4 linked regions of the Homo sapiens genome follow. The protein of the gene in region 1 purifies or fractionates together with the protein of each later gene. This does not show direct contact. Each region holds a gene or a part of one and is shown on either strand. Other genes may lie near its edges.

Evidence for each region.
Region 2: the proteins of ASIC1 (region 1) and TNFRSF10B purify together in Homo sapiens (affinity purification with mass spectrometry; 2 studies listed by BioGRID and IntAct, with this or other methods). This does not show direct contact.
Region 3: the proteins of ASIC1 (region 1) and UFSP2 purify together in Homo sapiens (affinity purification with mass spectrometry; 2 studies listed by BioGRID and IntAct, with this or other methods). This does not show direct contact.
Region 4: the proteins of ASIC1 (region 1) and SLC27A3 purify together in Homo sapiens (affinity purification with mass spectrometry; 2 studies listed by BioGRID and IntAct, with this or other methods). This does not show direct contact.

The regions. Positions count from the first base shown.
Region 1 is NC_000012.12:50,053,027-50,060,595, reverse strand, and holds the start of ASIC1 (acid-sensing ion channel 1), read right to left. Parts: upstream 3,001-7,569; 5' UTR 2,680-3,000; intron 2,427-2,679; exon of another isoform or gene 2,374-2,426; intron 1,846-2,373; 5' UTR 1,830-1,845; coding exon 1,468-1,829; intron 838-1,467; coding exon 642-837; intron 1-641. UniProt on the Homo sapiens protein: Forms voltage-independent, pH-gated trimeric sodium channels that act as postsynaptic excitatory receptors in the nervous system, playing a crucial role in regulating synaptic plasticity, learning, and memory.
Region 2 is NC_000008.11:23,058,819-23,066,288, forward strand, and holds part of TNFRSF10B (tumor necrosis factor receptor superfamily member 10B isoform 1 precursor), read right to left. Parts: intron 1-7,470. UniProt on the Homo sapiens protein: Receptor for the cytotoxic ligand TNFSF10/TRAIL. The adapter molecule FADD recruits caspase-8 to the activated receptor.
Region 3 is NC_000004.12:185,408,495-185,415,964, forward strand, and holds part of UFSP2 (ufm1-specific protease 2), read right to left. Parts: intron 7,374-7,470; coding exon 7,216-7,373; intron 6,854-7,215; coding exon 6,661-6,853; intron 5,379-6,660; coding exon 5,232-5,378; intron 3,920-5,231; exon of another isoform or gene 1-3,919. UniProt on the Homo sapiens protein: Thiol-dependent isopeptidase that specifically cleaves UFM1, a ubiquitin-like modifier protein, from conjugated proteins, such as CD274/PD-L1, CYB5R3, DDRGK1, MRE11, RPL26/uL24, TRIP4 and RPL26/uL24.
Region 4 is NC_000001.11:153,770,485-153,778,876, reverse strand, and holds the start of SLC27A3 (long-chain fatty acid transport protein 3), read right to left. Parts: upstream 3,471-8,392; 5' UTR 3,380-3,470; coding exon 2,713-3,379; intron 2,360-2,712; coding exon 2,150-2,359; intron 1,816-2,149; coding exon 1,657-1,815; intron 1,117-1,656; coding exon 992-1,116; intron 717-991; coding exon 522-716; intron 415-521; coding exon 324-414; intron 191-323; coding exon 1-190. Other genes in the region: INTS3 (integrator complex subunit 3), read right to left, coding at 5,607-5,684, 5,796-5,952, 6,166-6,238, 6,437-6,537, 6,914-7,081, 8,144-8,192. UniProt on the Homo sapiens protein: Mainly functions as an acyl-CoA ligase catalyzing the ATP-dependent formation of fatty acyl-CoA using LCFA and very-long-chain fatty acids (VLCFA) as substrates.

The sequences.
Region 1 (7,569 bases):
TCCTGGCTCTGCGGCTCTTGCCGGCAAGCAGGAAACCTAACCAAACAGTGTATGTGTCTATGTATGGGGTGCGGATGGCACACAGGGAGTTACTGTCTGGCTATTTAAGAGAAGGTTTCCCTTACTTGTGCTTCACGGTGCTTCTCAAACTTTAGTGTATACTCCAGTCACCTGAGGATCTTATTAGATGGAGATTCTGGTTCAGTAGGTTTGGGAAGTGGGGTGGCAAAGTCCTGCATTCCTTTCAAGCTCCCAGTTGATGGTCCTGGACCTCACTACAAGTAACACGGCTGTAGCTTACCCACCTGTCTGCTCAGCTCTGACACCTGTGGCCTAGAAGGTAAGCTTGGTGGGTTTGTGGCTATGCCAGACCACGCACGTGTGTGCATATATGTGTGTGTTGTGCACTGTAGGCTCTCTTTCCTGCCATCATGGCTGCAAGGCTGAGGCTCAGGTGCTCATGCAGTGAGTGCAAATGTGCCCCTATGCTGAACAAACTCCCCTTCTACTAGAAGCAAACCCCAGGACATACAACTTCCTCTCCCAGAGTAGCAAGCACCCGGAGAGGCCCAGCCTGCTCCTTGTCTCCTCCTCCTCCTCTGTGGGCCAGGCTGACTCACACCCCACACGAGGGGACTCACCACCTTGAAGTCTTCAGCGCTGCAGACCTCCCCCCGGAAGTGGCAGGAGAGCAGCATGTCTCGAATGTCGTGCCCAGCTCGGTCGTAGAACTCACGCATGTTGAAGGGTTTGGGTTTGAAGCTGCGGAAGTTGGCTTTGTCCTGCAGTATCTCCAGCTGCTTTTCATCTGCCATCTGTGTGTCTGGTATCTCATACCTGGGGTCCGGGGGTGAGTGACACACGGGTCAGTACAGTCATCAGTGTCCTGCACCCAACTTGGGTGATGGGGGCAGCCTCCAGCCCTGGGGATCAGTCCCAGGTGTAGGCAAGGAAGGAGAGCTGGGCATGCAGAGGCTCTACCACATGGGTCTGAAATGACAGGAGGAACTGTAGTGGCTGCCCAGGGGCAGGGCATCCCATCCCAGCACATGGGTGAGAGGAAGCATGGATAAGGTGGGCAGAGAGACAAGGCAGGGGCTGTGGCTTTTATACTGTAGTTTCTACCCTTTAAAGATGTTCTGTCCCCATCCCCCAACTGACGAGAAGGTCAAGACAGAGTGGCCAGAATGAAGGTAAAGCTCACTCCAGAGAGGGTGACAATGTCTCATACCTCAGGCTGGGTGGGGGTCGAGCTGTTCTGGACTATGCTGGGATCGGAGGCTGGGTGCCCTTAACTGGGTGCTCAGCAGCACCCTAACTCCTCTGCTGTGAGTGGCAGGTTTGGGGGTGGGGGTGGGTTAAAGGGCAGGGTTGGCTGGGCTCTATGGTGGGTCAGGGAGGCAGACATCCTGACTGGAACTCAAGCAACTCCAGGAGCAGGGCTGAGGGAGGGTGGGAGCCACCCACCTGTTGTTGAGCAGGGCCAGCAGCTCCCCAGCATGATACAGGTCATTCTTGGAGACTTGGCTAAAGCGGAACTCGTTGAGGTTGCACAGCGTGACAGCAGGGAAGGTAAGCTGAGAGGCAGCCACCTCGTCGAGCTTGGTGACATGGTGGTAGTGGAAGTAGTACTGCACACGCTCCGTGCACACACACAGCAGCACAGCCAGGGAGCCCAGGAAGCACAGGGCCCACAGTGCCCGCTTCAGAGACAGCCGCTCGTAGGAGAAGATGTGGGCCAGGCCGTGCAGTGTGGAGCTGCTGGCGAAGGCCTGGATGCTCACCGGCTGGACGCCACCCACCTCCTCCTCCTCGGCCTTCAGTTCCATCCTTGTTGAGGGGATCCTGGGGGAGGAGGGAGGGACAGTCTATCATTGTCCTGGGATGAAAGTACACATGGAGCCCCTCCACATGTGCCCATCCAGAATCCTCATCTCCAGAGGTCACCACTCCTCGGGCAGAAGACTTCCCTGCTTTGCAAGCCCAGAGGTGGCTGACCAAGGGACACATCCAGGGTTCCTCCAAATACAGAGGCACAGGGGGTCAGGTCAGGCCAAGAGAATGCTCCCCAGAGAAGCTTCCCAGGCCCGGGGAGACCCCAGATATAGTCATCCGAGGTTGAGGGGGAAGTCCTGATGCACCCATAGGCAGGCGCAGGAGTTCCCTCCAGATGTGGGGTCACTCTGGGACAAGAATATCCACCCCATCCTGGAGATGAAAACTCACCCAGATGGGCTGACCCCGGGGTAAGGAGCTCCTGTCCTGGTCACGGGTATTCCCTGGACGGGGCTGTGGTCCTAAGGGCTAAACTGGGGCCAGAAAACCCCCAGGGAGGTGGCTACATCTAGGGAGGGGCCCAGCCTGAGTCCTCACCTGCGGGTGTCTCCAGTTCTCACATAAGCGCAGGCTGTGTGTATGTTGGGAGTGGGGGGTGGCGGGCTGCCCGAGGTGGATGTATGGAGGGGGGGCGCGGTTCCCTATGACAGCGAGCTGTCCCCGCCCCGGACGCAGCCCCCCCCAGTCCAGCTTCTCGTCGCAGTCAGATCCCCAGCTCGGCCCCCGCCCCCCTCCCCAGCCACCGAGCCGCCCCAGCAGCAAGGGAAATCCAGAGGGAGGAGAGTCCCGGCTTCGGGGTACCGAGGAGCCTCGCGGCCAAAGGCAGGGGTATCGGAAACCCACCTGAGGGGGCTTCGGCAAGCCGGCAGCCGGCGGCGGGTCCTGGGGCGCTGGACCGGTGGCGGGCTCAGCGCCGAGTCGCGGAGGGGCTCATGGCCCGGGGCCGGAGCCCGCGGCCGCCGCGGCACGCCGCGCAGAGCCCTGCAGGGAGCGCCCCGCCCGGCCCCGCTCGGCTCCGATCTGTCCGCCCGCCCGCGCGCGCTGGCTCGCTGGCTCGCTCGCCTCGGCTCGGTCTGCCCGGGCTCGGCGCGGTGCGCGGTGCTCTCAGCCCTGGGATCTGCAGGGATCCATCGTCCGGCCGGGAGGCGGCGGGAGGGGAGGGGGAGGGGAGAGGGTGCGCGTGCGCGCCTACGAGTGTCTGCGAGGCTGTCTCTGGGCTGGTGTGCGCGCGGGGCCCCGGATCCGGGAGCGGGACCCAGGGCTCCCCGCGCCGCCTCGCCCCTCCTCGCGGCCGCTTTCGGCGGCGCTGCCTCTCTCCAGTCCCGGAGCCGTCTCCCTGCCTGCGAGGCCCTATGGCTTGTGTGTATGACTCTGTGTGTGGTGTGTGTGCGCGCGCGCGTGTGTGCGCGCAGGAGGGAGGGTGTCTGCCCCTAGCGTCCCTCTCCCCGCGCTGTCTCCTTCGGATCGATGCTCCTGCCTCTTGCTGCTGCTTCCTCTGGTGGCACACACGCGCGTACACACACACATACACACACACGCTCCGAGTCACACTTGACTAATTCAAGCACTTAGCCCATATGGAGACAGACACACATACCGACCAGAGTCACACCACACCATTCACAACCACACCCCCCCGCAACAGATGTCCACGTATCCCGGGGGCCTGACCCACATGGCAAGCACTCACCTGCTCTTATCCCTGCTCCCACCTGCATGTGACACATATACACGTGCACATATGTGAGCCAACACGCAGCCTTGACCACTCAGATCCCATCCTTGTAGCTTTGGGCTTGTGGGGGGCATGGTCGCAACCCCTTACTGCCAAATCTCCAAAGAAGGAGCAGAGAAAAGGAAGGAAAAATAGCCAGAGGTCAAGGGAATTTGGACAGAAGGAAGGAGGCAAAGGGAGTGAAGGGGACAGGGTGAGGAAGGGTTGGAACGGGGAGCTATGCTCAGGGATGGAGCAGAAGTCTCAGCACAGAACGCAGGCCTGGGGGCTGCTCCTGTGGCTCTCACCTTTCTCCTTCCCTGCCTCCCTCCTCTTCTCTGAGAGGCCTTGGGGAGGGGGGCCCTCCCTATCCAATTAACAGAGAAGGAGCAATCAAGGGGAAGTTGTTAATTTGCTGATGCTCATTAGGGGCTCTTAGCACAGAGGCTGTTGAGGTCTGATGGTGTCAGATGATGAGGAGGAGGGTGCGGGGGACCAGAGTTCTGTCTCTAGTGGCTCCTTCGCTCTACTTGCAGGCTGGTGCGGCTCGGGGAGAAGGATGGTGAGAGGTGTATTCCTAGGACATGGTGCCGGGCTTTAAGTTAGAAGAAAACCTGTAACGAGAAGGGGATGGCACATTGGAAAGAAGTTGGATGAGAAGTTGGGAGTAGTGGACATCTAGGAAACCAGAGAAGGGGTCTGGAGGTCCCTAGTGGGAGAGTGGACTTAAGATTGTGGAGGAGGGAGGTCGAGATCCATTTACTAGGGGACTGGACACGGAGCTGCCAAAAGGAAGGGAGGATCTTCCATTCAGGTCTTGGGGAGCTGTTCAGCGGTACCAGGCAGTGCTGGAGGGTTGCTATGCCCCCGGGCAGCCACTGGGTGGCAGCCCTCTCCCAGATACTTAGAATCAACTCGTGGGGGGCATTTGAGAGTGGGAAATCACCTGGGAGGGTCCCAGAGACCTGAGGAAGCATCAGGCAGAGTCTGATTCCTGAATTCCAAATATCCTCAGGGGGAGGGGAACACTATTTTGGAGCATCTGTAATTTCCCCACCTCCCCGCGGCTCGCAGGCTGACTGACACGTGGAGCCTCTTCAAATGGCTGCAATTGCTTCAGTCACCTGGGATGTTACTGAGGGAGCAGCGGGGGTGGAGGGAAGGTGATGAGGTGAGGTGGAGGCAGGCGAGGACTGATTGAGGCCAAGGAGCAGCCTCAGGAGGAGTCTGGGGGAAGACAGAAGGTATGAATCAGGAGAATCAGCTTCCAGACCTGGCCCTGCCATTCATTAGCATAGGCAGGCCCCTTGACCTCTCTGGACCTCGGTTTCCTCATCTGTAAGGCAGAGATAATATTTATTTCACAGGATTTTTCGAGGATTACATGAGCTAACGCATGGAAAGTGCTTAGTACATTGGCATGTACCTAGTAAATCCCAATAAGTAAATAACTATTATTAGTATTAGCATTTGGATCTAGTGGTAAAACCACCAGTGCAGCCAAACCAGGGCAGAATCTAAGGCACTGGTTCTTAACCCAGGCTGCACATTCGAATCACCTGGGGAGCTTTTAAAACTGCAATGCCAGCTGGGCGCGGTGGCTCACTCCTGTAATCCCAGCACTTTGGGAGGCAGAGGAGGGTGGATCGCCTGAGGTCAGGAGTTTGAGACCAACCTGGCCAACATGGTGAAACCCATCTCTACTAAAAATACAAAAAGTAGCTGGGCGTGGTGGCGGGCACCTGTAATCCCAGCTACTCGAGAGGCTGAGGCAGGAGAATCATTTGAACCTGGGAGGCGGAGGTTGCAGTGAGCCGAGATTGTGCTATTGCACTCTAGCCGGGGAGACAAGAGCGAAACTCCATTTCAAAAAATAAAAATAATAAGATAAAACTGCAATGCCAGCCAGGCGTGGTGGCTCACGCCTGCAATCCCAGCACTTTGGGAGGCCGAGGTGAGTGGATCACCTGAGGTCAGGAGACCAACCTGGCCAACATGGTGAAACCCTGCCTCCACAGAAAATACAAAAATTAGCCAGGCGTGGTGGCACGCACCTGTAATCCCAGCTACTCAGGAGGCTGAGGCAGAAGTGCTTGAACCCGGGAGACAGAGGTTGCAGTGATCGGAGATCGTGCCACTGCACTCTAGCCTGGGCAACAGAGCGAGACTCTGTCTCAGAAAAAAAAAAAAAAAACTGCAATGCCATGGCTCCACTTTAGACCAGTTAAATCAGAATCTCTGGGGCTGTGGCGCGATCTTGGCTCACTGCAAGCTCAGTCTCCTGGGTTCACGCCATTCTCCTGCCTCAGCCTCCCAAGTAGCTGGGACTACAGGCACCCGCCACTACACCTGGCAAAGTTTTTTGTATTTTTAGTAGAGACGGGGTTTCACCGTGTTAGCCAGGATGGTCTCAATCTCCTGACCTTGTGATCCACCCGTCTCAGCCTCCCAAAGTGCTGGGATTATAGGCGTGAGCCACCATACCCGGCCTTTTTTTTTTTTTTTTTTTTTAAGTTGGGGTCTCACCCTGTCGCCCAGGCTGGAGTGCAATGGCACAATCTCGGCTCACTGCAACCTCCGCCTCCCCGGTTCAAGAGGTTCTTCTGCCTCAGCCTCCCGAGTAGCTGGGATTACAGGCGCACACCACGACGCCCGGCTAATTTTTTGTATCTTTTGTAGAGCTGGGGGTTTCACCATGTAGGCTTGAACTCCCGACCTCAGGTGATCCACCCACCTTGGCCTCCCAAAGTGCTGGGATTACAGGCATGAGCCACTGCGCCCGGACAATCGCCCAACTTTTTGAGGCCTTTAACATATAGCCAATCTTGAGCAACCTTGCTCTTCAGAACTTATGGGTCTGAATTATGGTTTCATAGTGTCACAGGCCCCAGTCTTAGGAAGTTCTTTCTTATATACAACCTAAATCCCTCATGCTGTTGTTTCTTCTTCGTTTGAGAAGTGATGGGTCCTTGCACACACACATCCCCTCATCCCTACCCTGTACATCGCAGCAAACCTTCACCGAGGGTTTTCCTGGATCAAGCCCCAAGATTGGCCCTGTGGACATGGTGAGGATTGGCAGAGTCCTTGCCTCAAAATATCCCAGTGTGGAAAGAGAGACAAACATGTTGACTTGTGACTCTAGTGCAAGGGCCAGGAGTGAAATAGAAGGCTGAGCCAGGGCTGCCAGCAGAGAGAGGCAGGGGGGCAGTCACTCTGACAGGGGTTTGTGGGACAAGGATGAGGAAAAGAGGAAGTTGGTGTTGGCAGGGCCTTAGTAAGATAACACTTGAGGGATCCAAGGGCTGTGATTAGTGTCTCATTACTTCTTTCTGCTTCTCTGGCCCACCCACCCCTTGTCCAAGTCCTGACAGAGGATACTGGCTCCTTCAGCATCCTCCCAGCTTCTTCTCCATGCTTCGTTTTCTCTGGACCCTGCAGTCCTTAGACCTCAGTACCCTTTATCCCCACCACGGACTGAGAGGGAAACAGGCCTGAAGATATTTCTCCTTCTGCTGGCAGGAGGCATCTAGCCAGGGCCCACTTAGGACTTTGGCCTTGTGCTCACCTAGGTTCAAATCTCAGCTCTGTCACACCAGTGCTGTGTGGCCCTGGGCAAGTAACCTAGCCTGAGTCTCACTTTTCTCCAGAAACCATAAAACCCAGCTAATGCCCATGCTGTTGAAACAATGTGTGTCTAGCAAACAGTAGGGGGTGTTCCATCAATAGTGGCAAGCATTATGATCATCCCTGAAAGGCTGATGGGGGCAAATTCCCCATGGATGCTTCCCTTGCAGATGGCCCCATCTGCTTTAGGTGCAGAAGCGCCCTCCAGCCTCTCAGAGATGGGTGAAGAGGGAGGGTAAAGAGGGGGACAAGACCCCCTGGGATTTCCAGGCAGCTCTTCTCCGCTCCCCCGTGCATGAAATCACACGCGCCCCAATCTGTCTGCATCCACTTCATCTGCCGGCTCAGCAAATGCAGAGACAATTAAGGAGTTAATTAGCACGCACTGGGAA
Region 2 (7,470 bases), on another chromosome or scaffold:
TTTTATGTGTAATTGTTATAGTGACTAAAATAAATGCTGTTTTTTTAAATCTAAAACTAAGGTAAATTATATATAACATGAAACTTATCTTTTAATCTTTTAAAATACATAGTTCAGTGACACTACATTTATTAATGTTGTTGTGCAATAATCACAACTATCCATCCTCAGAAGTTATTTCATCTTCCCATTCTTCCCTCCTTACAACCGCTGGCATCCAACATTCTACTGTTGGTTTTTATGAATTTGACTACATTAGGTACCTCAAGTGGAATCCTATTTCATTTGTCCTTTTATGAATGGCATTTTACTGAGCATGTCTTTAATGTTCATCCATTGTGTAGCATGTGCCAGTATTTCCTTCCTTTTCAAGGCTGAGTAATACTCCATTGTATGAATATACCACATTATCTATTGATCTGTCCAACTTGAGTTTCTTCCACTTTTTGGCTATTGTGAATAATACTGCTATAAACGTGGGTGTACAAATATCTGTTTGAAACCATGCTTTCAATTCTTTTGGACGTATACCTAGAAGTGGGAATGATGGATCATCTGCTAATCCTGTTTTTACTTTTGAGGAACTATCATACTGTTTTCCATAGTGGCTGCACCATTTTACATTCCCATTAACAGGGCACGAGGGTTCCAACTTCTCTACAAATTTGCTAATGCTTATTGTGTGTGTGTGTTGTTTTTGTTTTTTGAGACAGAGTCTCGTTCTGTCGCCCAGGCTGGAGTGCAGTGGTGCCATCTCAGCTCACTGCAAGCTCCGCCTCCTGGGTTCACGCCATTCTCCTGCCTCATCCTCCCAAGTAGCTGGGACTACAGGCGCCTGCCACCACGCCGGGCTAATTTTTTTGTATTTTTTTTTTAGTGGAGACGGGGTCTCACCATGTTAGCCAGGATGGTCTCAATCTCCTGACCTCGTGATCCGCCTGCCTTGGCCTCCCAAAGTGTGGGGATTACAGGCATGAGCCACCGCACCCGGCCTGTGTGTGTTTTTTATAATAGTCATCCTGATGGGTATAGGATGGTATCTCTGTCGTTTTGACCAGCAGTTCCCTAATGATTAGTGATTAAAGTATCTTTTCATATACTTATTGACCATTTGTATATTTGCTTTGGAGAAATGTTTATAAAAATCAGTTGCCCATTTTTAACTGGGTTGTTTTTGTTTTGTTAGATCGTAGGAATTCTTTATATATTTTAGATATTAAGCCCTTATCAGATATATAACTTAAAATATTTTCTCTCATTCTGTGGGTTTTGCCTTTTTATCCAGTTAATAGTATCTTTTGATTCACAAGAGTTACTGATTTTCAAGAAGTCCAAAATGTTTATTTTTTCTTTTGTTGCCTATGTCCATGGTGTCACATCCAAGAAATTATTGCCAAATCCAATGTCACAGAATTTTTATCCTATATTTTCTTTCAAGAGTTCTATAGCTTTAGCACTTACATTTACATCTTTTATTTGTTTTTAGCTATTTTTTAAATACAATGTTAGGCTAAGGTTCACTTCATTCTTTTGAATGTGGATATCCGGTTCTCCTAGCCCCCTTCATTGAAAAGACGGCCCTTTCCTCCATTCAACAGTCTTGGCATCCTTGTGAAAAATAATTTGGCCATATATGTGAGTGTTTATTTCTGGCTCCTCTATTCTATTCCACTGATCGATTTATCTGCTTTTATGTCAGTACCATCCTGTTTTGATTACTGCAGCTTTGTAGGAAGTTTTGAAAATCAGGAAGTGTGAATCCTACTACATTTTTATTCATTTTCAAGATTGTTTTGGATATTCTGGTCCCTAGAAATTCCATATGAATTTTAGGATACATTTTTTCATTTCTGCAAAAATGTCCTTGGGATTTTGATAGAGATTACATTGAATGTATAGATCACTTTAGGAAATGTTGACATAATTAGTCTTATAATTCATAATCATGGCATATCTTTCCATTTATTTTTGTATTCTTTAATTACTTTCAGTAATGTTTTATAGTTTTCATTGTACTAGTCTTCCACCTCCTTGGTGAGTTTACTCCTATTTTATTATTTTTGATACTATTGTAAATGGATTTTTTCCTAATTTCTTTTTTTGAATTGTTCATTGGTAGTGTATAGAAATGCAATTGACTTTTCCAGTTGATTTTGTATTCCGCTTCTTTGATGAATTCATTTTAGTACTACTAAATAAAAATTAAAAACACAGTTTAGATATACCCCACGGCAATTACCCATAACCATGTAGCCAAAACTTAAGACATCCTGATATCCCTGAAACATTAGCTATAATCATAAAAAATCCCACAAAATATAAGTTTTACACCTTCATCATGACATAATATGGTTCAGTGAAGTTAAATCAAGCAGCTATAGAAAAATCAGCTTAAACAGCTCTGATTGCCTTTAAAAAGAATATAAATTTATAAGTCAATCATGAAATTGTCAAAATACATCCTCCTTTATAGCCTGTACTATACCTGCTGTAAGGCAAGTTTCTTACCACTTGGTTTGAAATCTCCCAGATTGCAATCTGTACTGTCTTTTACTGAACAACAATAAATTTCAAAATTTTAAAAATTTAATATTATTTTATTTTTGGCAGTTTAATTTTTTGTGAAATCTTTTGGATTTTTTACCAGTAAGATCATATCATCTGAAAACACAGATTATTTTACTTTTTCCTTTACAGTCCAGATGCTCTTATTTCTTTTTCTTGCCTGTTTTGGCTAGAACTTCCAGTACTATGCTGAGTGGCAAAGGTGGGTAGATATCCTTATGTTGTTCTTAATCTTAAAGGAAAAGCTTTCCGTCTTTCAACACTGAGTATGATGTTAGCTGTGGGGTTTTCTTACATGGCTTTTATGATGTTGTGGAAGTTTTCTTCTATTCTTAGTTTGCTGGGTGTTTTCATCATGAAAGGGCTTTGAATTTTATCAGAGGCTTTCCCTGTATCAACTCAGATGATCATGTGTCTTTTTCCCCCTTCATTCTATTAATGCAATGTATTACATTGTTCAGTTTTCATTTGTTCAAACATTCTTGCATTCCGGAAATAAATCCAACTTGGTCATGGTGTATAATCCATCTAAGGTACTGTTGAATTCTCTCTGATAGTATTTTGTTGAAGATTTTTGCATCAGTTAGGGATACTGGGATATAGCTTTATTTTCTTGTAATATCTTTATCTGCTTGGGTATCAGAGCAATGCTGGCCTTACAGAAAGAGTCAAGAAAGGTTCCCTTCTCTTCAAGTTTTTGAAAGAGTTTGAGAAGTAGTGGTATTAGCTCTTCATTAAAAGCTTGTTAGAATTCACTAGTGAATTCTGTCAGTTTAATTAATAGTATTGAAGAATCAATGTTGGTTTTGTGGATTTTCTCTATGGTTTTTCTTTTTTCTTTTTCTTTCTTTCTTTGAGACAGAGTCTCACTCTGTTGCCCAGGCTGGAGTGCAGTGATGTGATCTTGGCTCACTGCAACCTACATCTCCGGGGCTCAAGTGATCCTCCCACCTCAGCCTCCCGAGTAACTGGGATCACAGGTGTGCTCCCCCGGGCCAGGCTGCTTTTTATATTTTTTGTAGAGACAGGGTTTTGCCATATCCAGGCTGGTCTCAAACTCCTGGCTTCAAGCAATCCTCCTGTCTTGGCCTCGCAAAGTGCTGGGATTATAGGCGTGAGCCATCACATCCGGCCTCTACTGTTTTTCTATTCTCTGTTTTATTTATTTCTCTTCTAATAATTATTTCCTTTATAATGCTAACTCTAGGTTTGGTTCATTCTTTTTCTAATTCCTACATTTGTAAACTTAGCTCGTTGATTTAAGATCCTTCTTCTTTTTTAATTAAACCATTTCTGGCTATAAATATCATAGATGGAATCAGATACTATATATGCTTTTCTGTCTGGTTTCTTTAACTCAGCATAATTATTTTGAAATTCGGTCATATTTTCATATGCATCAGTACTCCATTCCTTTTCATTACTGAGTTGTATGGCAGAATTAATATGGTAATATTATAAAATGTAGGAGACTTGAAATAATACAGATTGATTCATCTCCACTACTCATTCTTTCTGCTATAGTTGTCTCAGGCATGTTCATATGTTACAAACCCTACAAAGTGTTATATTACTTGATAGTGAATATTTTCAAGAAATTAAGAGGAAATAATCATTCTTTATATGTGCATTCATATTTCTATTCCTGATGATCTTCCTTCTTTCCTTAAGATCCATGTTCCCAGCCAGGCAAGGTGGCTCATGCCTGTAATCCCAGCACTTTGGGAGGCCAAGGCGGTGGATCTCCTGAGGTCAGTAGTTTGAGACTGGCCTGGCCAACATGGTGAAACCCGGTCTCTACTAAAAATACAAAAATTAGCTGGGTGTGGTGGCAAGCGCCTGTAATCCCAGCTGTTCAGGAGGCTGAGGCAGGAGAATCGCTTGAACCCAGGAGGCAGAGGTTGCAGTGAGCCGAGATTGCGCCATTGCACTCCAGCCTGGGCAGCAACAGTGAAACTGTCTCAAAAAAAAAAAAAAAAATCCATGTTTCCATTTCATTTCATCTCTATTCAGATTGAAATCTTTTAGCATTTTGTGTACTGCAGGTCTATGAGCAATGACGTGCCCATACTGTCTCCAATAGCACATTCAGGTTCCTAATTCTTAAAGCCATTTATGCCCATTTACTCTTTCTTATTTGGTAATGACCTCACCCAAGTCTCAGATTAGAAACACTAGAATCCACCACAAACCTCTTTCCTCTTCTTACCAAACCCATTGCATCACCGGCCTGCGTTATCATCATTTCCCTCAGATCTGCCTCAGCTGCCACTTGCCTCCTTCACGATAATGCAACCTGACCCTCACCCTAACCACTAGGACCCATCCCGAATGCTGTCCAGGCCACACCTGAGTGCACCCACCTAGTCCACTCTCCACTGGGTGAACAATGATCTTTAATGGGTGGATCTGATGAGGGATGTCCCCGGGGAAAACTTGACAATGGCCTTGGTGACTCTGGACTTGGGTGATCCTCCGTACTCTATTCAGATCCTCTGTTCTGTCCTCAGCCTGCCTGCCACACTCCCCACCTCTCACGTTTAACACACTCTATGAGCAGGCTGAGGACACAACGTCTGGGTTAGTGCAGCTTCCTAGAATCCACGTTACTCATTCATTCATTCATGGAAGGCATGTAGGCGCCTGGCGACCGCATATGCAAGGAGCCGTGGAGTATCGGGAACATGGCACGGCCCTTCCTTTCCTTAGCACAGTTTCCATTCACAGGAGCTGAGGCACAGCCATCATTAACCCCAAAGTCCATGAACTTGCAAAGAGTCTGGAGGGGCTGCCCAGGCAGAGGTGACAAATGCCATCGGTGGCAGGGACAGTAGTGGACATAGAGGAAAGAGTGCACACAGACAGAATCCCAGACAGACAGGAATCCAGTGTAATGGGGGAGGGGAGTAAAAACAAGAGAGGTACTGCTGAATTAATATTGTAATATGATTACAAAATGTAGGAGAGTTGAAATAATATAGATCCATTCATCACCATTCACTCTTTCTGCTGTGCAGGACGAGGCTGTGCCGTCCGTGGGCCTCTCTGATTGAGGGAGAATGGGCGTGTGGCCAGAGATGCACAGCTGTGTTGGGCCACAGAAATGGGCTCATGGGGGTGTCCATGGGCATGGTTAAGAGAGAGAAGGAAAACAAGAAGAAGGGAGGTCAGGGGTTTGGCTTATTTCAGTTCTTGTCCCATTGAATTCTAGGGACCCTGCCTCCTCCCGGACATGAGCCATTGGCGGGGTTTCCCTGTCTTGTGACTCACCCACCTGTGATTCAGGCTCCTTGCTTTACACCAAGTTTGAGCATAAAACCTGCTAATATTTCTCGTCAAAAATTAACCCGAGTAACCTCTTCTTTCCTCTCTGAGTCACCCACATCCTTAAAACTGCCCAGGATAATCACAGTTCCTGCATAGGTTGTTGTGTGAACTGAAAGTGTTAATATGTATGGAAAGTGCTTAAAACACAGAACTTTAAACACATGCTCTGATTAGTACGATCATTACCCTCAATGTTGATTTTAAGCAAACCATATTATCCTGGCCAAACTACCATGACCTGGAGCCTTGGGACTGCACAGCCTCCCTCTGTCAGTCAAATATGGAGGGATGACATCTCTGGAGCCAGCACAGCCACTCTGGAGGTGGGGGAGGTGACAGTGGTGGGACCTCATGCTTCCTGATAGTTATTTAGGTCCCTGCTGTCACCTGCTCCACCAGACTGTGGGCTCCAGGGAGTAGTCAGTATTCACACAGGGCTCATTTGTCCTTCCCCAACCCAGGCACAGATTTTCCCAGAGTAAAGGGTTCCTCCTCTACCTGATGAATGAATCACTCCTGTCCCCGCCGCCAAGCACATGCAGTGAGACTAGCTGTGGCCTCAGCTCACTGCGTAAGGACAGCCTCCAGCTACAGCAGGGGCAGAGGACCCTGTAGAGCTCTGTAGTCTCTGTTGAGAACCACAGGCAGGAACTCCCAGAGGCCAAGTGCAGGGCAGAGACTGGGAGAAGCAGCTGCCTGGAGGACTCTGGATCCTTGCAGAAGACATGTCCAGTGTCTGCTGAGACTGACTCTAGGTGCCTGAGAAGAAGCCACCCAGGGAAGGAGAGACTAGATTGTGGACCACTCAGGGCTGGGAGATCTGCATGTTCCCCTTCCCACAGTGGACAGAACGCATGCCAGGGTGCTGGCGAGTTACCATCAGAAGTCAACCACTATAACTTTAGTAGTTAACTAAATGAGCCCCTGAATAAGGCAACTGAACACAAGGTATATAGTTATATGTAGATAAAAGCTAGTATCAGAGGAGCAAACTGATCCTCAGTTTTCTGTGACCAGAATAATGCCCAATAGACTTTGAAAGAACACAGTGATGTTCGGTACCCAAGAAAGCAAAATTCACAATGTCAAGCAATAAGAAATTACTATGCATGAAAAAAAAAGTCCCTATGGGCAGGAAAAAAAATGTAATCAACAGAAACAGTGGCCGTAATAACAGATATAATGGTGTTGATAGATTAAATAACTTAAAACAGGTCATCTAAAGCTTACAAATATACTCAAGAATATTTAAAAAACAGAAAAACAAAAAACACCACCACCAAAATCATAGGTTGCGCACGGTGGCTCAGGCCTGTAATCCCAATACTTTGGGAGGACAAGGTGGGAGGATTCCTTGAGCGCAGGAGTTTGAGACCAGCCTGGGCAACATGGTGAAACCCCGTCTCTACTAAAAATACAAAAATTAGCCAGGTGTGGTTGCAAGTGCCTGTGGTCCCAGCTACTTGGGAGGCCGAGGTGGGAGGATCACTTGAGCCCAAGAGGTTGAGGCTGCAGTGAACTCTGACTGTGCCACTGCACTCCAGCCTGGGTGACAGAGTAAGACCCTGTCTCAAAAAA
Region 3 (7,470 bases), on another chromosome or scaffold:
ATATGCTCCCGAATTATGTTTAATGTTCTTAGAGTTAGACTGTTACTTTAGTTCCTTATAAAAATGCCTTCACAGATCTATGGTTTAACATTATACCTTCTTGGCTTTTTATTTGAGGTTCAAAGTCCTTACCACAGGGCCCAGCAGGACCTACCTTCTGGCCTCCTCTCCAATTTCATCTCCTAAACTTTTCCCTATTGCTCCCTCTACTTTCGGTTCCCATATACCAGGGGCAATATGACCTTGGAGCCTCATGGTTCTCTTGGCCTGGAACTCTCTTTTCCCAAATTAATTGTACAGCTTGCACTCTTACTTCACTCAGGTTTCCATTTAGATGTCAAAGGTCTTCCTTGACCATCCAGTCTACAAACGGCCCACTCATTCTCTCACTACCCCACCCCCTGCCTCACCTGTCATCTCTGTCCTCTTTATGTTTTTATTTTTCAAAGTATATCATGACTTGATATACTTTAAATGATACATTACTTATCATTTAAAAAATATCTGCCTACTTACACTAATATGTGAGCTCAGTGAGTACATACACTGTGTCTTATCCATTTTTGGGCCCAAGCTTCTACAACACGCCTGGCACACGGTTAATATAAATGCTGCTGAATAAATGCTGAATGAATGAAGGAAGGAATAAAGGAATGAACAAACAAATGAAGGGTCCATATCATGGGACACAGGAAGAATGTGTCTAAATTTATAAACCTGCTATGATTACAGCCCAAGTATGTTATTTGATGACGCTAAGTTAAGGGTCAAAAAATAAAGATAAATAAATTACTAATATCATATAAATTCTTACTTATAGTGCTAAGAATGTATATGTCTTTTTTTATTAAAGAACTGGGTTTTTGTTTTTATTTTTTTGAGATTGGGTCACACTATGTTGCTCAGGTTGGTCTTGAACTTCTAGGCTCAAGTGATCCTCCTGCCTCAGCCTCCTGAGTAGCTGGGATTACAGTTGCACACCACCATGCCTGGCTCCAAACTGATGATATTTTTAAAAAATTAAGTGAGAGGAGATAGGGACAAGATAGAACCAACCCTCACCCAACAATTAGAGAATATATATTCTGCCCAAGCACAGATAGAAAAATTTATAACTTGACCATTGTGACAGGCTGAAAAGTGGCTCCCAAAAGGTATGTATGTCCTAATCCCTGGAACTTGTGAATGCACCCTCTGTGCCAAAAAGTAAAAGAAAAAAGGAAAGCAAAGGTATTCATAGACGTGATTAAGGATCTTAAGATGGGGAGGTTATCCTGGATCCTAGTGTGCCCTAAATGCAATCACATATATTCTTAAAAGAGAGGGGCATAGGAGGAGAAGGTAATGTGACTGAGGAGGCAGAGATCGGAATGATGGGGCCACAAACCAAAGGATGCTGGCAGCCATCAGATTAAGGAATGGATTCTCCCCAAGAGCCTATGGAGGGAAGGTGGTCCTGCTGACATTGTGATGTCAGCCCAGTGATACTACTTTCAGAACTCCAGAACTGAGACAATACATTTTTGTAGTTTTAAGCCATCAAATATGTTATTATTTTTTAGGGAACAAATACAAGTTTCAATAAATTTCAGAGTTAGTTTCACTTAGAATTCTTTCTGACCAGGAGGCAAGAGTCAGAAACCAGTTAAAACAAGAAGAAAAAAAAAGCAAAAAAGAAAAATAAATTCTGACATATTTGGACATTAACAAACACTTCTAAATAATACATGGACAAAAGAAAAACCATAATAGAAAAATATAAAAATACTTAGAAGTGAACAAAACTAAAATCCTTCAAATTAAACCTATAAGATACACTAAAAGCAGTGCTTTGCTTGAAATTTAAAAGCTTACATTAGAAAATAAGAAAGCTGTCCAGGCACGGTGGCTCATGCCTGTAATCCCAGCACTTTGGGAGGCCGAGTGGGTAGATCACCTAAAGTCAGGAGTTCGAGACCAGCCTGGCCAGCATGATGAAACCCTGTCTCTACTAAAAATACAAAAATTAGCCAGGCGTATGGCTATTGCCAGTAATCCTAGCTACTGGGGAGGCTGAGGCAGGAGAATTGCCTGAACCAGGGAGGCAGAGGTTGCAGTGAGCTGAGATCATGCCACTGCACTCTAGCCTGGGCAACCGAGCAAGACTCCATCTCAAAAAAAAGAAAGATTAGGCCGGGCGCAGTGGCTCACGCCTGTAATCCCAGCACTTTGGGAGGCTGAGGCAGGCAGATCACGAGGTCAGGAGTTTGAGACCAGCCTGGCCAATACGGTGAAACCCCATCTCTACTAAAAAATACAAAAATGAGCTAGGCGTGGTAGCACCCTCCTGTAATCCCAGCTACTTGGGAGGCTGAGGGAGGATAATCGCTGGAACCCAGGAGGCGGAGGTTGCAGTGAGCCAAGATTGTGCCACTGCACTCCAGCCTGGGCAACAGAGCAAGACTCCATCTCAAAAAAAAAAAAAAAGAAAGAAAGAAATATTAGCAATAAGCTAACATGTCCAACTTAAGAAGTTAGAAGAAAGACAATAAATCAAAGAAAGAGCAAAAAAAAAGAAAGTAAAGAGCAAAAATTAATAAAATCAAATACAGAAGTTATAATAGAGGGGGCCAACAAAGCCAAAAGTTTTTTTTTTTTTAAAAGACACAAGGCATAAAAATGATATGAAGAATGAAAAAGAAAATATTATGACTACAAGATATATTAAAACCTAGGTAAATAACTTATAAAAATCAAAAAGTCCTAAAGCTGTTACCAAAACTAAATTGGTTACTAAAAATCTTCTCACAAAGAAAATGCTACGCCAAAATTGTTTTACAGGCAAGTTTTACCAAATGACCAAGGAAAGATCATACCACTCTTATATAAACTTCTCTAAAAAACTAAAAAAGGAACATTAACCTAACTAATTTAGTAAACCAGTATATCACTAATAAAAAAACAAAATAAGAACAGTATGAGAGAAGAAAATTATAAGCCAGTATCATTCACGAACATAGATGCAAAAATCGTAAAATATTAGCAAATGGAATCCAGAGGGGAATAAAAAATAATGAGTCATAACCAAACCGAGTTTATTTCATGAATGCACATCTATATTGTTGAGAGATTTGTGCCAAAGTATTTAAGGGTAAATAATATATCTATAATTTTCCTTGAAATGGTTCAGAGGGGGAAAAAAGAGGGAGAAATGAAGCAGATATAGCAAAATGTTAACAACTGTTGCACATATGTATCGAGAGGTATAGGAATGTTCATTGTCTAAACAGCAAAAAAACTTGGAAAAAATCATAAAGATAATTAACTATGGTTAGACAAAATACCAGAGATGTTTGATATGTAATATTGAGTGAAAAAGCAAGCTGCAGAGACTACGTACAGAATGATACCATATTTATAAAACTCAGAACTATGCAATACTAAAAGCGACATTGCTGAGATTGATATGTAACATATACGCTGAAACTACTTTTTAAAAAGGAAGGAAATGATGAACACAAAACCCATAATAGTTCCTCCTGGAACTGTGTCGAGGAGGCAGAGGAGTGGGTAGGGAAAGAGCACAGACTGGTAAAGTTTTGCTTCTTAAATTAGGGAGGAGCTCCCTGGTATTCATTTCCCCACTGTGCTTTACAATTTGCATATGTTATATGTACATATCAAATATTACATGATAAATATGTAAAGTATATATTTTTCTTACGACCTTGTAATACAGATATAATGAACCTATTTTATTGTCAAAAAGCAATCAGTACTCATTCAATACCTTCTGTGTGTCCAGGTTCTTCTAAGGAACTATTCTTTTTGTGAGGAACTTTCTATGGAAGCTGGTTGGCCCACAGCTTTTGCAGATGATCTGCTGCCCTGAGTACACTCTAATGACCAAGACCACAAGTGGGCCCCTAACTCATCTAGGGTACGTACTGTATCGTATATGCATTTTTTTAATTCTTAAGATTTCCTCAAAAGTCCTGGACGCTCAGAAGGTATTAATAAATGCCACCATACGATAGCCAAGTTTTCTTTCTCTTGGGAATCTGAACTGAGAGGTGCAGAGTTAGCCAGGCAGCCAGGAGCAGGAAATGCAGTTGGAATGAGGCATACACTGGGCAGCTGAGGAAGAACAGGAAAAAGTGACACACAAGCTGAAACAGTGAGGATACAGAGGGTATGAGGTGGAGCAGACAGAGTAAAAGTTAAGAACAGGCCAGTTAGGATCACAAGCATACACAGAAAGCAATAGCAATGCCACCAAGGTATCCACGGAGTCCTTGAGAGAGACTGAAGACACCTGCTAGTCACAGGGCTGCTGTTTCTAAGAGGCCCAGCTCTATTGGTATTCCTAATCTTGGATGCCTTATAAGGTCCTTTCTCACTGGCCTCCATGTATCCTTAAAGTAACCCTTCCACCACCCTCCGCCAATTCACTCTTATTTGAGCTACCTTTAGGGAGGATCTATCCCTGGCAACCGGGTATATGTTACATGGAAAATAAGTCTAGTTCCTCATTAGACTTATCCTACAGTGGCTGGGCATGGTGAATCATGCCTGTAATCCCAGCACTTTGGGAGGCCTACATGGCGGATCACTTGAGGTCAGGAGTTCACGACCAGCCTGGCCAACATGGTGAAATCCTGTCTCTACTAAAAATACAAAAACTAGCCAGGTGTGGTGGCAGGTGCCTGTAACCCTAGCTACTGGCCAACATGGTGAAACCCTGTCTCTACTAAAAATACAAAAATTAGCCAGGTGTGGTGGCAGGTGCCTGTAACCCCAGCTGCTCAGGAGACTGAGGCAGGAGAATTGCTTGAACCCAGGAGGCGGAGGTTGCAGTGAGCTGAGATCACACCATTGCACTACAGCCTGAGTGACAGAGCGAGACTCTGTCTCAAAAAAACAAAAAAAGATTTATCCTACAGTGTGGTTTGGGTAGACTATGCCCTTAATTAGCATGATTTCTCAGGTTCAGAATGAAAAAAAATGGGACAAGCCTTTAAAGAAATAAGAGAATTTTAGTAAGATAAATGTGGTATATCTACCTATTACTAACTTTTCTAGACCATTTTTAATTACTGCTATCTTAAGCAATGTCTGTTAACAGAGATGGGTGATAAATCATGTTTTAGGAATGAATACATAATGAATCAAGTCTCCTACTGGGTACCAACAAAAAACAACTAATAACATTACTGATCCAGTGACTCCCATAAATAATTAGTTAAACTCACCATACCAGTCTCCATGTTAGGTGGATTAAGGTAAGTATGTGGATTTCTAATGTAACCATCTTTGTATGGCTCATCTGGAAAGTGATAAGCATTAGACCTTTTGAAATAGGGTCTGTCGTGAGGCAGATTGAAAAGATCATGTAACTCCTAAAATAAATCAGAATCAACAGAAAAAGAAAAAATGTTGGTGATTTAGATTCCTAGTCAATAAATAAAGATGTTATTAAACATGGAAAATTATATATAGGTTATAAAAGTTTCCAAACACTTATGGTTTAATTCACTAACATCAAAGATGGTGAAAACTGAACTAAAACCAAGTAAGATTTATTTTCGTTTACGTCTGTATCTGGGTAGAAACTGGAAGGGAACAGAGAAAAATGAATATAAATTGTTAGAGTAAGAGAACTAATTTTTAAATAATTATTTATTACAACATAGTCTGTTAAAATACATCCAGGCTAAAGACTGGTTTTGAAATAGCCTTGTAAATGAGTAAATTATAATTAACAATAATTATATCAAAGTATTTTGCAAAATTGTGTCGAGTGCCTTACAAATATTTTATATTGTAAGTGGTAGTGATTAAACTACAGAGTAGAAGTTAGTGGTCTAAAGCCAACCAATATGGCAGGAAAACAAATACACATATATGTTTAAAATGTGTTATTTTCCCAACTATATAAAAACATGTAATAGGTATTTTAAAAAGTTTGACATGTTCTTTATCATATCTTGTACTCCAGTGGTTTTAAAAGATCAGCTCCTGTAGCTATTGCTTCTACAAACCAAGTCACCTCCACATACAGAGGGTCAGGGTATTCTCGCTCTCCCTAAGGACAGAAATTAGGAAGATGCTCCACGGTCTAATTTGATAGGTTCTAAGCGAGTCCACATATCAAAAAGATGCACTCCAAAACCAGTCATGAGTAAATCTCATTACTTTGAATGCTGGTCATGTTTTCTCCAAAATTCCTCTAATAAAGCCCAAATAACCTTACTTGTGGAGTATTACCATAAATCCTATTCAGAATTAGCATAAGTTATCATTTTCCTTCCCTAACTGTAATCTTGTCTCTTTCACAAATCGGAAAGTTATAGAAATCTGTTAATACCAGCAACTTTAGGCATGTAAGCACCATTTCTATATTTCATTATGGAAAAATATTAAAATTTCACAGAATATATGAACCACACCGAGCATTTAAAATTAAAATGTTACATATAGGTTCAACATAACATTTTGTCATTAATACTACTTAAAGTTTCATGAGAACAGAAATTAAATAATGTGTAAAATGAATAGTCTAAATTCCACACTTTTAAGTTAAATCACAAAATACCTTCCATTTAGTGGAAATATATAATTAAATACAAAATGAATGATAGTCATTATTGTTTTTTCTAAGAATAGATGAACTGGTTTTACCTTCCTATAGGCCTGCAGCTGGCCATCTGGTATTCCTGAAGGATATGAAATTGTTACAAGATTTTTTTTCCCTGGTAATAAAAAGTGCAGTGGTTCAGGGACCACAATAGATGTTCCTTTCATATATTTCAAAATACATTTTTCCATGTCAGTTAGTTGATTATGAATTGCATCAACCAGGAGTTTACGAACTCTGTGGGGGGAAATATATAAGTGTATTAACAAAAGTTATAGTGACTACAATAAAGAAAAGTACAGAGCTAATATATCCTTAGTATAGTAAAAAACTTGATTGGACCAGGTTTGCTAAAGGAAGTCTGAATTATACATTATAAAAGAAACTGTGTATTTGCTCTTTGTGGATAAAGGGAAATCCTCCAGGTTTTAGCATGCTACCCTACTTCCTCCAAATAACCATTTAATTAATAGATGGCTCTTAGGTTAATAATAAACAAGGAGAAAATCACACCTTAGGTATACCTACAGGATATACAAACATGGGTTTGGGGAAGGGCCCTCATTCAAATGTGGCAGTGGTACTATAAAAATACTTACTTTCCCCATGTTTCTTCTGGAGCAACAGATATAACTGCATCGACAGGTAAAGTCATATTAACATAATGGTGTCCTCCGCTTTCCCTTTCAATGATGGGCGTTACAGCTGCCAGGGAGGTTGACATTTCCAGCATAAGATCTATATTTACTATTTGATGCTATATAGATAAACAGTAATAGTCAACTTGTAGTGCATTAAACACTAAATATAAAGAGTAAGTAAAAAGACTTTTCAAAAATGTATTTATTATTAAG
Region 4 (8,392 bases), on another chromosome or scaffold:
TCTCCAGTACGATCATGGAAGCGGAGAAAACCTTGGTCATCGCAGACCAGCAGGTCCCCAGTGTTGAAGAAAACATCCCCAGGCCGGAAGACATCCTTTAGCAACTTCCCCTGGGCCAGCTCTGGCCCGCCAGCATAGCCCAGGAATGGGGACTGCTGGCTTACCGGGGCCACCAGCAGCCCTGGCTCACCTGGCAGAGTCACCAGGGTCAGGAGTGGTGTCACCTTTCCCAGAGCCTTCTGCCCCCATCCACCCCAGTCTCCAATTCCAGTCCTCCTGTGCCAGCTTCAGCACCCCGCCCACCCCACCAGAACACCACCAACCTGGAGATGTGGCCATACAGTGCCCCTGGGGGTCCCGAATTGGCTCTCCTGTGGTGACATCATAGCGAATCAAGGAGAAGGGGAAGATATGCTGGGGAAAGGGAGACCTGGGTACTGGATCATTGCAGTCACATGAGCCCCCTCTCCTGCCAGCCCTCTGCTGTTCCACGGGTTTTCAGTTTCCTCTCTGCCCCTCACCTTGTAAAGCCAGGAAGCACGCCCCACAGCGCCCCGCTGTCCTGTGTAGTTGATGGTGGCCACGTTGCCCTCTGTCAGTCCATATGTCTCCAGCACCTGCAGGGGCCCGAAGCGCCGCACAAAACGCTCCCAGGTATCTGGGCGCAGCCCGCTGCCCACTGCCAGCCGGACCTTATGGCCACGTTCTGCCTTGCTCTGAGATGAGTGGGAGAGGGGCCGGAGCTTCAGCATCAAGATGCCCGCTCCCGGAAGTGAATTCCTGTTCCCCATTCCCCAGAACCCCCTCCTACTGTGACCTCCTTCAGAGGCCGTAAGCATCAGATGGCCTAGGCCATCTCTGGCTCCTTATCTTACACTGCCATTTTCTTCTTGCTGCTTCTCCCTCCAACTCCCTGTCTCCTGTCAACTGTCCTGCTCCCCGTGAGCTAGCCCTGTGTCAGCAGCTCTGCCCAGGATCTGTGCCCACGCACCGGGGGCTGGTTGACAAGGTATCGGCACAGCTCCCCAATGTACTGGAACACCGTCACCCTGTGCTGCTGGCAATCTTCCCAGAACTGACCAGCCGAGAACTTGGATTTCAGCACCACTGTGGCCCCTGCCAGAAGTGGGCAGGGGGGAAGAAGGGAGGTAAGATTAGGAGCAGAGTGGGGAGCCCAAGCCCCTCTTTCCAGACCCCAGCCATCACTGTAGTCTTTCCCTGGGAAGGGCCCACTGTGGGAGTCACACCGTCAGGAAGCCGTGCTGGCCCTCTTTCCCCTCCCCCGGCCCCTGTCCCCAGCCTTAGAAGAGGTGAATGCCCTTTCCCTACTTCCCAGCCCCAAAGATCTCATCCTCCACACTCTCACTTCCTTGTCTCTCTCTCCCTCTTCTCTTACTTGCCTGTTCCTGGACTGACACAGTCCTTCCCTGCCTTTGACCCTGCAGCCTGGAGTTATGTGGCTGTATGGCCCCCCTCACCGTTCCTCAGTCTGTAGGTCTAGGCAGGTGACATTGCCCTATTGTACAGAGCTCCTGGTGAGTAGGGCTCTGCCCCATCCGTCCTCTAGATTATCTACCCTGGAGGACTCACACCATAGTACGTGCTTAATAAATGTCTACTGGATGAATTAATGAAGGTGGGGTTGGGGAGACTGACCAATGCCCATGCAGCCCACGATGCCCAGCAGGGAACCGGACATGTGGTAGAGTGGGAGGGCGAGGTAGATCACATCTTCCTGGTGGACACCACACAGCTGATAGAAGCCCTGGCATTGCAGGATCTTCAGATGACTGATCCGAGCAGCCTTGGGGAGGCCTGTGGGGTGGCAGTTATGGGACGATCAGGGGAAGGGCAAACTCCAAGCTCTACCTATCTGTTTGCACCCCCGCTGGGTTTCCCACAGAAAGAGGCGGAGGCAGGACAGAAGCTGAGGACCGAGACCAGGCTGTCCTGGAAATATGGGTGGTCTGGGGGAGGTGGAGAAATGAGTAGGAGGTGAGGAGACTGGGGAGTGAAATGATGGGGAGAAAAAGGATGTGCCAATGAAATCAGCATCCTCTCTGGGGGCTTTGAAGGAGTGGTCTGGGAGCAGACCCCTGCCTTCCTCTGCCTTGGTTTCGGGGAGCTAAGTATGGTGCCCGGCCCTCACCCGTGGTGCCAGAGGTGAAGATGTACAGGCACGTGTCTGTTATGCTCTGGGGGGAAGAGAGGTATCCTGGCACTGGCCCATCCACTTCAGCGGACACTTCAGCCAGCAAATCGCTAATTCCAGCAGGGTGGGTTCCTGGGCCTGCAGCCCACAGGTGGAGCCCCATGGCTCTCAGGGCGGGCAGGTCCGGCTCCAGGGACTCCAGAAACTCTAGAAGGGTGGGAAAGCACAACGCCGGGGCCCTGGCTCTACCTAGAAGAGCCTATGACCCATGTCCCCTCCCTATCCCAGCCCACACTGCTCTTGGATGAGGGTGAAGGGTATGGACATTCCATCTTGGGTCTGAGGCCTGGAACTCGACTCCTTGGGGATCCTTGGGGCACCAAAGATTCAGCCTCATCCCTTCTCAAACCCGGAGACTCCTATCTCCACCCACTTTCGAACCCCAAGGGATAGTCGGCTTCTTCCCAGGCCCAGGGATGAGACCAAGCCTTTCTGTGGTCTCCGACACGCCCCCTTCTGTGGCTGGCCCCGCCTTAGTCAGTTCGGAGCTCCAGCCTTACCTGGCGCCAGCACCAGCGCGCGCGCGCCGCAGCTGCGGAGGCAGTGCAGCAGGGGGCCCCGGCGCAGGGCGGTGGGCACAAAGGCAGTGCGCAGGCCGGCCTTGGCCAGCCCGAACCAGAGCCACAGAAACTCTGGGCCAGCGGGGAGGAGCAGCGCCACAGTTGCTCCAGGTGACAGAGGGGCGGCGGCTCCTCCACCTCTGGCGGCACCGTCCCCTCCGGCAAACTCCGCGCCGCTTCCGGCCGCTGCATCTCCGGCTCCCGGCGCTGCCCGCTCGCCTTCTCCAGCGCTCCCCTCGCCGCTGTCGCCGCCGTCGGGTCCCCAGTCCCAGCCTAGCGCACGTAGGAAGGCGCGTGCAGCCCTGTTACTCTCGCGCTCCGCCTCTGAGTAGCTAAAGCGCCGCGAGCCGTGAATGAGAAAGGTGTGCGCGGCGCGCTGCTGGGCCAGTTCCGCGAGGCGCCAGGCCAGGCTGCAGCCCCCCTCGGGACCTTCCGGGTCGGCGGCAGCCGCGGCCAGGGCGCGAGCTCGAAGAGCCCTTTTGCAGCACAGAGCTCGCACCGCAAAGGCCAAGTCCGCCGGAAGCCAGCGCAACTGCGGCCAGAGGTGTAGCTTCAGCAGCAGCAGCGGTAGCAACAGCAGCAGGGGCAGCAGCAGGAGGGCAGCCATGGAGCCCGCTTCCTCTATCGGCACCGTCTGGTTCCAGCCGCTCGCAAACATCCCTGATCCTCCCTTCCGAAAACCTAGGGCCGCTCGTTCTAGCTGAGACTTCTCCTTCCAGGGAGCGCGCGTGCGCTGGCACACGCCCATTCCCACCCAGGCCCCCACCACTCCACACGGGCGGAGAGCAGAAACCCGGGAGGAGTGCGGGTGTGGGGCGGCCCCGGACTCCCAGCCCTCCCCCCACAGCCTACGCTCCGCCCTAGGCGCGCTCCCTCCCGGACTGCTCGCGGCTCGCACCCTACCAGGTCCTGGGCGGTGCTCGCGCCTTCCCTGAATCCCAGGGTTATGTCTGTCTTCTAAGTTGTTTCTCGGCTTGGGCGGTTTAGGCATCTGGCTAAGCCCTAGAGTCCAGGCCTGAGAGCCAGGGCGTTTGGATCGCAGTCCATCTTCCCCTCAATATTTCTCGTTTTCCCGTTAAGGGAAGGTACCATTGCTCTCTCCCAAAAGAATGAACTTGGCCCCTGGCCCATTTGGTTCTGCAAGTCCCGGCCTGCCAGCCGCAACCCCAGGGGATGGGTGGGGGCTGAGAGTTAAATAGGGGAAAGGTGGAAACCCAGACTGCCAGATTTCTGAGGGGTCACGACAGAGGCCCCTCCCTTTGGGCAAGGGTACAATAATTGGGGCCAGCCAGCAAATGCTCTCCATCCTGGTTTTAATTGGGACAGAGGAAACTGGGGAAGGAGAGAGGAAGGAAAAAGAAGCCTCCAGTGGTTTAGACTTTCAAAGGAAGCAACAGCAGTGATGAGGGAGGGGAGAACCTGGATTCTGTAAAAAGACAAATTTTCGGGGTGAAGAGGAGCAGCTCTGTGCAGTTCGCCCAAACTTCACTCCTCAGTCCACCTCCATTCTCCCTGGACAGCGGGGGAACAACAGCATAGCCAAGGAACTCTCCTCTGCTGGTTCACATGGCCCAGCAAGTGGCCACACTGTGGAAGGAAGAGCATCTCTGTCCCTCCCTGGTATCCAGACTTTATCTCCAGGTACAGTTGTCCCTGGAGACCAAGCTGGAGCATCCCTCCCGTCAAGCAGCGAGTCCTCCGGCCATTCTTGGTAGGCACACAGACTTCAACTGGAGGATGACAGACCTTTTGGAAGCATCTTGTTTCTTGAGAAATGAGTAAGGACAGGCCTCATCCTACGGGGGATGGTTCTGCATAGACAGATCAGTGCCTGGCTCCCACCTCCAGTGGCAGCAGGAAGGATGGGTAGTGGCCAAAGCCAAGTCCCTTCTGCTCTAGACAAAAGTGGGGGCAGAACAGGAAGGGAAAGGGGGATGTTCTGCGGTTACAAGTAGGGGTGCCAATCAAATCAAGACCAAGCTATACATGCACGGGGCAAATGCCAGCAGACACTCCAGCACAAAAGACATTCTGGCTTGTTTTATTGTCATTTAAAAACAACTTTTAAGACACGATTATCTCTGCCAAAAAAAAAACAAAAAAAAACAAAAAAAAAAACAGACTCAAGGAAATGGGATCATTTGACAATTCTGTGAAACTTGCCTCTGGGACTCCCTGGGCTCTGGTGTAGATTGAGGTGCCAACCTCAGACCAACCTAAGCCTCCAGGGCACACCACGTGGGGCTGTGGCCACCCTTTCAGACTCCTTTCTGAATGCTTGTGGCATCTGCCCCATGATTAGGAATGGACACCCTGACCACGTCATAGATGCCCATTTCACACTGGCATGTGGATAGTGACTATAAAACGTCCCTTCAGAACAAACCAAGACCTGAAGGGGAAGCAGGAAGGGACACCCACACACTGAGTCTCTGCTCTCATCCTAGCTTATCTGGCCAGCTGCCCCTTTGTCATTTCCCTTCTCTGTTGAAATGGCTCTTTGGGAGACTGGGGGAGGAGATTGCGGAAGGGGCCAGGGGGCTGAGGACTTCCACTATGGTCTGATTTTACAGAGCCTCTGGCTTCAGTCAGATCCCAAATATCACTGGGAACAGCAGTGTGAGGGGCTGGAGGCCCCAGGAGGAGGGAAGGGGCTAGGGGCTGCATGGCAGCTTCTCAAACTCAGCCAGAGGAGAAAGCTCCTCCTTCCACCGGGGGAGCTTGGGGATGCAGCAAGGGTGTTTCCCCTGCAATCTCCTCAGCCTCTATTAACCTTTGAATCACCAAGAAGGAGAGGGCAGTCCAGCCGGGGGTGGGATGGGGAATGCAGGGCCTCAGTCACTGTCAGAGCCCACTGCAGAGGACCCTTTTCGTTTCCGCTTGGTAGGCTTCGGTTTCGTGTCTTCCTCTTCCTGGAAGAGATGGGAGGGGAAATGGGAAGTTAACAGCCTGGGCAGCTGCTGGCGCCGACTCCACCTGCACCCAGTGCTCCTTTTCCCCCTGTGCACTGGCTGGGTTCTCACTGAAGCACTGCTGGAGCCCGACTCTTCTTCGGCATTGGGGGGCTGTGTGGCATTCTTTCGACTTCGAGGGCTGGACAGAGCTGCTTTTCGCCGGCTCTTGGGTGGCTTGGTGGAAGAGTCCTCATATTCCTCCGCCAGGGAGAAGAGATCACTGAATCTAAGGAAAAGGAGCGGTAGCTCTTTGAGTGGGAGCCTGCTGCTCCTACGGCACCTCCCATCCTCTTCTCTGCCCCCAGGCCTAGGCCTTCTTTTTCTTCAACCCTGGACCCTAAGGTCTTGCTGGCCATTACGTTTATGTCCCTAGCAGGCTTCCTCTCCCTTAGGCTTTTCCCCTACTACTTTCCAAGGCCCAAAGTGGCAGGAGCCTCACTTCATCTTGTGGGCTTCGTCACAGCTCGCTTGGACATGCTGCAGCGCCTGGAGAATTGGCGTCTGGCTAAAAACTAGAGGAAGAAAAGGGAGAGCAGGGAAGGAAAAACAATCAGATGTCTGGGAGCTTATTAAACAGCACGCACAGGTTGTTTTATCCCGAGTGTGGGTTGTGGCCCCGGGTGTCCTGCCCCTGCCCCCAGCCTGGCTCCAGGCATAGTCTGGGCCAGGGCAGCACCGTCTACACTGGACGCCGAGGGTGGAAGGCATACAGTTCTGCTTGGTGTTGGTCAGGTTGAGCCGCAGATTGTCCAAGTGCTCCAGGATCTGCTCCAGAGTCAGCTGGGCCAGCTTGCTGCTAGAGCTCCTCAGGCTGTGCAGGAATCACCAGAGCCAGAGTCTGAGTGTGGGAGGGTTCCAGAGTGCGAGACACCCTCCACCCGCCAGGGCCCCCTTAAGACAGAGGCAGCCTACATGGGGAACAGGATAGGCAGCCTGGGAGGGCTGGGGTTGGGTGAGAAAGGTGTGCCTAGAACAGGGGATCCTGGCCACAGGGGCACTGGAAGATGGGGAGAAAGGGCCACGGTGGTCTCGCATGCCATGTGGCTTCGGACCACTAGATGTCGCCCACAAACCAGGCTGGGACAGCACTGACCCCCATCACCACCACCACCACCACCACCACCACCACCGACAGCAATCACTGCAGACCGCCATGGCCTGGAGGGTAGACAGGGACCGTGTCCCACCTCTGTCTCTTGCGAGGCAGGCTGTTGTTCTTGATGAGCAGGGACTTGATGTGCTCGGCCAGCAGCTCGTCATGTTTCATGCACCAGTGCCGCAGGATGCTGGTGGTGAACTGGTCGTCAGGATGGCAGGGCCGGCTCAGCACCATCTTCACCATCTCCTCGCTGGGCCTGGGGGAGGAAGGGGGCACTGGGTGCTGCTTGCACAGTGGCCGCAGGGCATGCTGGGTCTCTCCCACTTATTTCCCAAGCCCTGGCCTCCCCACCCACCCACTACTCTCACATCCCTCTCCCTCTTCTCCTTAGGCCAAGGAATGCCTGGTTTCATCCTCTGTGGAAGCCAGGAGAGAAGAAGTGAGATTCTTCACTTGCTGTGGTAGGAGAAGGCGTGTGCGTGTGTGTGTTGGGAAGGAGGACCCTCAGTTCTCCTCCTCCTCCCCTAGAACAGTCAGGGAGTGGGCCTGGGAGGCAGAAGCACAAGCATGTGGCATGCAGATGCTCCCCTACCCCTACCCTGCTAAAGCTGTGGGCCAACCTGGCTTCCAGCTGGAGGAAGGGGGCAGGAGAGGGTTGTGAAGTCACAGCCCCATACAGCCTCCAAGCTTCCCACTTCCTCTAGGACACTCTGTACCATTTATAGTCTCTCAGGCAAGAGAGCAGAAAGGGTGGAAGGAAGGCAGAAAGGTAGGAAGGATAAGATACACAGCTGCTGCCCCATTTATCGGGGGATGTTGCTAAAGGGCTTTGCGGGAAGAGGGGGCTGCCACCCTCTCCCTCTCTGCCCCACCCTGTCAAGGCACAGTAGGTCCAGCTGGCTCTGCTCTGCACAGGGTGAGGGAGAGGATGGTGCGTGACCCCTCTACCCTGACCCTCCCTCCTCTTGGATTAGCTGTGCGGTGGCCAGCAGGAGCATGGGGCGGTGGGGGGGGCGCGGCGGGGAGCAGGAGCCACCAGGGATTAGAACTGCTGTGGCAGCAGGAAACAGGGATGTCCGGTCCCCACCTCCCCACCTCCGAGGGCAGCTCCTGGTGGGCAGGGGGGTAAAGTCGAGAGGAAGCCCAGATCCCAGGGGAGCTGCTCATTTGTAAGTCACGTTGGGGGAAGGGCAGAATAAGCAGATGTTAACGACAGGAAAAAATATGGCAATAAGGAGGAGGACAGAAGCCCTTTAGACCACAGCAGCTCTTGGGATGTTAAAATTGAGGGCTAAAGAGCCCCAGAAGTGGAACTCACTTTTCTCTTCGGAGTTGAAGCAGTAGGCAGGACAGGGCCTCTGGGTGCTCTGTGAGGGAAGGGCAGAGGCTGTTCAGGGGGAAGGTATGATTCCAGGATGGAATCTGGGGACCTCTCTCATCCCCCAACAGCCACTGGAGGGAATAAGGACAGTCTTTGATGAGGAGCCAGGAAGAATCCCCTACCCCACTCCTATCAGTCCCTGAGCCACCTGAGCCCCAGCCCAGAGCCTGGCTCATGGTGGGCCCA